Linked DNA regions of Homo sapiens. The protein of the gene in region 1 purifies or fractionates together with the protein of each later gene. This does not show direct contact. Each region holds a gene or a part of one and is shown on either strand. Other genes may lie near its edges.

Region 1 (3,819 bases):
TTTTCAACAAGGATGCCAGGATAGTTCACTGGGGAAGGAATAGGCTTTTCGACAAATGACACTGGGTCACCTGGAGAAGCAGATGCAAAAGAATGAGTTTAGACTCCTACCTCATTATCATACACAAACATTAACTTGAAATGGGGTAAAGACCTAATGTAAGCTAAAATTCTAAAACTCTTAGAAGAAAATATAGGCATAAGTTCTTATGACCTTGGATTAGGCAGTGGTTTCTTGGCTATAACACCAAAAACAAGCAATCAAAGAAAAAATAAACATCAAAATTAAAAACTTTTATGCATGAAAGGATACTATCAAGACTAGTATAAGCACATGAAAAGGTTAGGGAAATACCAGTCAAGACGCAATGAGATACCATTTCACACCCACTAAGTTGGCTGGAATAACAAAGATGGACAATAACAAGTGGGGCAATTGGAACCAAGGATGTGGAGCAGTTAGAATCCTCAAACATTGCTGATGTGAATATAAAATAGTGTAATTGTTTGGAAAACATTTTGGCAGTTGCTTAAAAAGTTAAGCATAGTTACCATGATCCATCAAATCTGCTCCTAGGAATCTACCCAAGAGAATTGAAAACATGTCTATATGAAGATTTGTACACAAATGTCCATAGCAGTATTCTTTTTTTTTTTTTTGAGACAGTTTTGTCTTTTCGCCCAGGCTGGAGTGAAGTGGTGCAATCTTGGCTCACTGCAACCTCCACCTCCTGGGTTCAAGCAATTCTCCTGTCTCAGCCTCCCAAGTAGTTGGGATTCCAGGCTCCTGCCATCACACCTGGCTAATTTTTGTATTTTTAGTAGAAATGGGGTTTTGCCATGTTGGCCAGGCTGGGTCTCGAACTCAACCTCAGAGTGATCCACCCACCTTGGCCTCCCGAAGTGCTAGGATTATAGGCATGAGTCACTACGTCCGGCCAGCAGTATTATAATAGCAGTAATATAATATAGTGCTATTATAATAGCACTATAATAAAATAGTGGAAACAAATTTTATTTGATGAATGGATAAACAAAATGCGATCTATCCATACAATGGAATATTATTCAGCTATAAAAAGGAATAAAGTACAGCATGGTTGAACTTGAAAGTATGCTAAGTGAAAGAAGCTCAACACAAAAGCTACATATCATATGATTCCATTTACTTGAAATGTCCAGAATTGGCAACTCCATAGAGACAGAAAGTAGATTAGTGGCTGCCTAGGACTGGGAGGAGGCAGGAATGGGAAGTGACTAATGATAGATAGAGGTTTCTTTTGGGGGTGATAAAAATGTTCTGGAATTAGGGGTGATGGTTGCACAACCTTGTGAATATACTAACAAGTACAGAATTGTACACTGTAAAAGAATGAATCTTATGGTATGTGAATTTATCAATTTAAAAACAAAGGGGAAAAATACATACATACTTATAATAAGACAACCCAATAAAAAACGGACAAAAGATATCAATTGACATTTTAAAACCATAAACCTTCATAGTTAACATTTGAGGGCTACTTACGTGCCAGATAACAAACACTTTATTTTATTTTATTTTTTATTTATTTTAGAGATGGAGTCTCACTCTGTTGCCCAGGCTGGAGTGCAATGGTGCGATCTTGGCTCACTGCACCCTCAGCCTCCTGGGTTCAAGTGATTCTTCTGCCTCAGCCTCCCGAGTAGCTGGGATTACAGGCGTCCACCACCATGCCCAGCTAATTTTTGTATTTTTAGTAGAGATGGAGTTTCACCATGTTTCCCAGGCCGGTCTCGAACTCCTGACCTCAGGTGATCCGCCCACCTCGGCCTCCCAAAGTCTGGGATTACAGGCGTGAGCCGTTGTGCTTGGCTTTATTTTATTTTATTTTATTTTATTTTATTTTATTTTATTTTATTTTATTTTATTTTGAGACGGAGTTTCGCTCTTGTTGCCCAGGCTAGAGTGCAATGGCACGATCTTGGCTCCCTGCAACCTCCGCCTCCCGTGTTCAAGCGATTCTCTTGCCTCAGTCTCCCGAGTAGCTGGGATTACAGGTATGTGCCACCGTGCCCAGCTAATTTTGTATTTTTAGTAGAGACAGGGTTTCTCCACGTTGGTTAGGCTGGTCTCAAACTCCTGACCTCAGGTGATCGCCTGCCTCAGCCTCCCAAAGTATTGGGATTACAGGCGTGAGCCACTGCGCCTAGCCTATTTTATTTTTTAAGAGACAGTGTAGCTGGGCACGGTGGTTTACGCCTGTAATCCCAGAACTTTGGGAGGCCGAGGCGGGCAGATCATGAGGTCAGGAGATTGAGACCGTCCTGGGTAACACGGTGAAACCCTGTCTCTGCTAAAAATACAAAAAATCAGCCGGGCATGATAGCGCGTGCCTGTAGTCCCAGCTACTGGGGAGGCTGAGGCAGGAGAAATACTTGAACCCAGGAGGCGGAAGTTGCAGTGAGCCCAGATCATGGCACTCTATTCTAGCCTGGGTGACAGAGTGAGACTCTGTTTCAAAAAAACAAACAAAAAAAAGAGACAGAGTCTTACTGTATTGCCCAGACTGGAGTACAGTGGCAGAATTGTAGCTCACTACAGCCTCCAACTCCTGGGCTCAAGTGATGTTCCCATCTCAGCCTATAGCTTGGAGTACAGGCATGTGCCACTATGCCTGGCTAATTTTTTAAATTTTTTCTTAGAGGTAGGGTCTCACTGTGTTTCCCAGGTTAGTCTTGAACCTGGCCTCAAGGAGTCCTCCTGCCTTGGCCTCCCAAAGTGCTGGGACTACAGGAGTGAGCCTCTGTGCCTGGCCATAGATATTAAGCACTTGACACTTACTTTTTTTTCGTTGTTTTTTGTTTTTTGTTTTTTTTTTTTTTTTGAGACAAGAGTCTCACTCTGTCGCCCAGGCTAGAGTGCAGTGGCGTGATCTCGGCTTACTGCAACCTCTGCCTCCCAGGTTCAAGTCATTCTCCTGCCTCAGCCTCCTGAGTAGCTGGGATTACAGTTGCGCGCCACCATGCCCGGTTAATTTTTGTGTTTGTAGTAGAGACAGGGTTTCACCATGTTGATCAGGCTGGTTTTGAGCTCCTGACCTCGTGATCCACCCTCTTCTGCCTCCCAGTGTTGAGATTACAGTCGTGAGCCACCACGCCCTGCAGCACTTGACACTTTGTAATCTTTATAGCCAACCTCGAGATAGGTACTATTATTATTTCCATTTTATAGATTTAGAAATAGGAACTGGTTAAATAATAATCTAGTTAGTGAGTGTTGGACTAAGATTCAAACTCAGGAACTCAGTTTTTATTGACTATACTGTGTCCTGTTTATATACTACATACTGTGGTTTACTGTATAACCTTCTTGCACAGACCTTTGTGTGGACACTTCATTTCACAGGGCTGACTAACCACCTCACCATGGCTCTTTTTCCCCTTTACAGATCTATTAATGAGATGAAGCGGTTGGAAGAAATGTCAAATATGTTTCAGAGCTCTGGAGTCCAGCACCACCCTCCAGAACCAAAAGCCCAAACAGAAGGGAATGAAGATTCAGAGGGCAAAGAGCAACGTTGGGAAATGGTGATGGATAAGAAACACTTTAAGCTGTGGCGGCGCCCAATTACAGGCACCCACCTTTACCAGTACCGAGGTGAGCCCAGTGTGGCTATCTTTTGGGTTCCATAGTTGCACAGGTGCATGGGATTTCTGTTCTTCATACTTCTCTAAACTGTTCTGGTTGTTTCTCAGAAAATTTGCCGTAGTTTTTTGTTTATTGTTTTTCTTCTCCCAGATGACAAATGTCTCAGTGTTGTCTTTGCTTACATCCTCT
Region 2 (3,819 bases), on another chromosome or scaffold:
GATATCTCATTGTGGTTTCCTAAAGACTGATAATACTGAGCAACTTTTCAGGGGCTGACTACCCATTTGTAGATCTTTGGTGAAATATCTATTCACATCATTTGCCTATTTTGTAATTGGGCTGTTTGTCTTCTACTGAGTTGTAAGAGTTATCTGTGTATTCTGGGTACAAGTCTTTTATTATAGATATGATTTCCAGGTATTTCCCCCTGACTGTGACTTGTTTTTTCATTTTCTAAACAGTGCCTTTTGAAGCACAAAAGTTTTAAGTTTTGATGAGATTAAATTTATCATTTTTTATCCTATGTATTGTGCTTTAGTGTCATATCTAAGAACTCTTTATCTTAACCCAAGATTTGAGAAATTTTCTCTTGTAGATCTTCCTTATTATTATTATTATTTTTTTTTTTGAGATGCAGTCTCACCCTGTCACCCAGGCTGGAGTGCAGTGGCATGATCTCAGCTCACTGCAACCTTCGTCTCCCTGGTTCTCCTGGAGGAGGTCAAGCGATTCTCCTGCCTCAGCGTCCCGAGTAGCTGGGATTACAGGTGTTCACCACCACATCTGGCTAATTTTTGTATTTTTAGTAGAGATGGGGTTTCACCACGTTGGCCAGGCTGGTCTCAAACTCCTGACCTCAAGTGATCTGCCCCCTTCAGCCTCCCAAAGTGCTGGCATTACACGCGTGAGCTACCATGCCCAGCCCCTTCCTCATCTTGTTTCTGAAGGAGTTTGTGAAGGATGGATTGGTAATTTTTTTTTTTTTTTTTTTTTTTTTGAGACAGAATCCCACTCTATCGCCCAGGCTAGAGTGTGGTGGCACGATCTCAGCTCACTGCAGCCTCCCTGTCCCAGATTTAAGTGATTCTCCCGCCTCAGCCTCCTGAGTAGCTGGGATTACAGGAGGGTGCTACCACACCCAGCTAATTTTTTTGTATTTTTAGTAGAGACAGAGTTTCACCATGTTGGCCAGACTGGTCTTGAACTCCTGACCTCAGGTGATCCACCAGCCTTGGCCTCCCGAAGTGTTGGGATTACAGGTGTGAGCCACCACACTCAGTTGGTAATATTTCTTTTTACAGTATTTTATAGAAGTGTTGACCTGCAAGGAAGAGGCTAACACACAAAATATGATTTGAAGAGTTTACTTGATTTTTAAAGGCAAAAAAATGTGGACAGGGAGTGGGACTCATACAAAGTTGTTTATCAAGAATTCTCATTGATTTACAGAAATAACATTGGTTAGTGATTGGCTGTACATTAAGCTGTAGGATGTAGGATATAGCGTCAGGTAGGGCATTATTAGGTTAATCCTTACCCACTTGTGGCAATAGCAAGCAGTTTTGATAGATGAATCTTAGCTCAAAAAGGGAGAATAGGAAGTGATTGCTATCTCATTTTAATATCTCTCTGGGCCCTGATCATTTAAAAAAACTTGGATTCTTTAGATAAAAGTTATCTTCTTTTTTTTCAGACAGAGACTCACTCTTCCGCCCAGACTGGAGTGCAGTGGTGTGATCTCGGCTCACTGCAACCTTTGCCTCCCGGGTTCAAGCGATTCTCGTGCCTCAGCCTCTCAGGTAGCTGGGATTACAGGCGCCTGCCAGCACACCCAGCTAATTTTTGTATTTTTCGTAGAGACGGAGTTTCACCATGTTGGTCAGGCTGGTCTCAAACTCCTGACCTCAGGTGATCCGCCTCAGCCTCCCAAAGTGCTGGGATTACAGGGGTGAGCCATCACGCCCAGCCGATAAAAGTTATTTTCTGACCTGCCTGGGCAACGTGGAGAAACCCTGTAAATTTTTGTAAAATTTGTGTTTTTGTAAAAATACAAACATTAGCCAGGTGTGGTGGCTCACATCTGTAATCCCAGCTACTCAGGTGGCTGAGGCACGAGAATCGCTTGAACCCAGGAGGCTAAGGTTGCAGTGAGCCGAGATTGTGCCACTGCACTCCAGTCTAGGCAACACAGTTGAGACTTTGTCTCAAAAAAAAAAAAAAAAAAAAGTTATCACCAGTGAAGCTACCTGGGCCTAAGCTTTTCTTTCTTCCTTTCCTTTTTTTTTTTTTAAATTCTCTATTTATTTATTTAGAGACAGGGTCTCTGTTGCCCAGGCTAGAGTGCAGTGGCACAATCATAGCTCACTGCAGCCTCAGACTCCTTCAAACTCAAAGCTAGGACTGCAAGGGCATACCACCATGCCCAGCTAATTTTTGTGTTTTTTTAAATAGAGGGTCTTGCTCTGTTGCCCAGGCTGGTCTGAAACTCCTGGCCTCTAGTGATCCTCCTGCCTCAGCCTCCCAAAGGGTTAGGATTATAGGCAAGCATGCGCCATGGCACCCAGCTGGCTTCGGCTTTTCTTTGTGGAAAGGTATTTGATTATTCATTTTCTTTACTTGTTTTAAGTGTACACAGAATATTTTGTTTCTCCTTGTGTCACTTTTTTTTTTTTTTTTTTTTTTTTTTTTTTTTGAGACGGGGTCTTGCCAGGCTGGAGTGCAGTAATGATCACTGCAGCCTTCGCCTCCCAGGTTCAAGCAATTCTCCTGCCCCAGCCTCCCGAGTAGCTGGGATTACAGGCATGTGTCACCATGCCCGGCTAACTTTTTTGTATTTTTAGTAGAGACGGGGTTTCACTGTGTTGGCCAGGCTGGTCTTGAACTCCTCGAACTCTAAAGTGATCTGTCCGCCTCTGCTTTCCCAAAGCACTGGGATTACAGATGTGAGGTCCCTGATTATTTTCTTGGTTAGTCTAGCTAAGAATTTGTCATTTTCTTGATCTTTTCTAGTTTCTAAGGTAAGATCTTATGTTGCTGATTTGAGTGATTTGAGATCCTTCTTTTCTGATGTAGATGTTTAAAATTATAAATTTCTCTCTTAAGCACTTGTGACGTTTTATATATATATATATATATATATATTTCCCTCCATAGTTCCTGGCTCACAGCTTCTATAACCCTTGTACTTTCCTCAGTGACTAAAGCAGTAAGAGTATCTTCTGTTAAAATATTTGGCCTTTTGTCCTTGCTTCCTGAAACACCTCTGGAACTGCTCCAGAGCAAGAAAGGTGAAAAACAGACTTTTGTTATTTATAACAAGCCCCTTTCTTTTTTTTTTTTTTTTTTTTTTTTTTTTATGAGATGGAGTCTCGCTCTGTTGCCCAGGCTGGAGTGCAGTGGTGCGATCTCGGCTCACTGCAAGCTCCGCCTCCCAGGTTCATGCCATTCTCCTGCCCCAGCCTCCCAAGTAGCTGGGACTATAGGCGCCCACCACCACACCTGGCTAATTTTTTGTATTTTTAGTAGAGACGGGGTTTCACCATGTTAGCCAGGCTGATCTCGATTTCCTGACCTCGTAATCTGCCCTCCTCGGCCTCCCAAAGTGCTGGGATTACAGGCGTGAGCCACCGCACCCGGCCATATAACAAGCCCCTTTCAGCCACACCTTGGTACATGTTAATAGGGTGATTTTTGAGAAGTCCCTAGATTACCACATTCTGGTTGGCTGGTTGCCATAGGAACCAACCATGTGCTCAGAGGCTTGGAAGTTACAGCCCCCCATCTTGAGAGGGTAGAAAGGAGCTGAAGGTTGAATTGATCACCGATAGCCAGTGATTTAATCAACCATGCCTATGTAATGAAGCCTTCATAACAACCCAAAGACCTCAGTTTAGGGGCTTCCAGGAAGGTGAACAAGAACACATTCATGTGCTGGAAGTGTGGCACACCCCAATTCCATGGGGATAGACGCTCCTACACATTAGACCCTTCCAGACCTGGCCGTATGTATCTCTTTATCTATTTGTATCCTTTAACAT

What was found.
Region 2: the proteins of STARD7 (region 1) and ZNF346 purify together in Homo sapiens (affinity purification with mass spectrometry; one large-scale study listed by BioGRID and IntAct). This does not show direct contact.

The regions. Positions count from the first base shown.
Region 1 is NC_000002.12:96,195,161-96,198,979, reverse strand, and holds part of STARD7 (stAR-related lipid transfer protein 7, mitochondrial isoform 1 precursor), read left to right. Parts: intron 1-3,430; coding exon 3,431-3,639; intron 3,640-3,819. UniProt on the Homo sapiens protein: May play a protective role in mucosal tissues by preventing exaggerated allergic responses.
Region 2 is NC_000005.10:177,025,599-177,029,417, forward strand, and holds part of ZNF346 (zinc finger protein 346), read left to right. Parts: intron 1-3,819.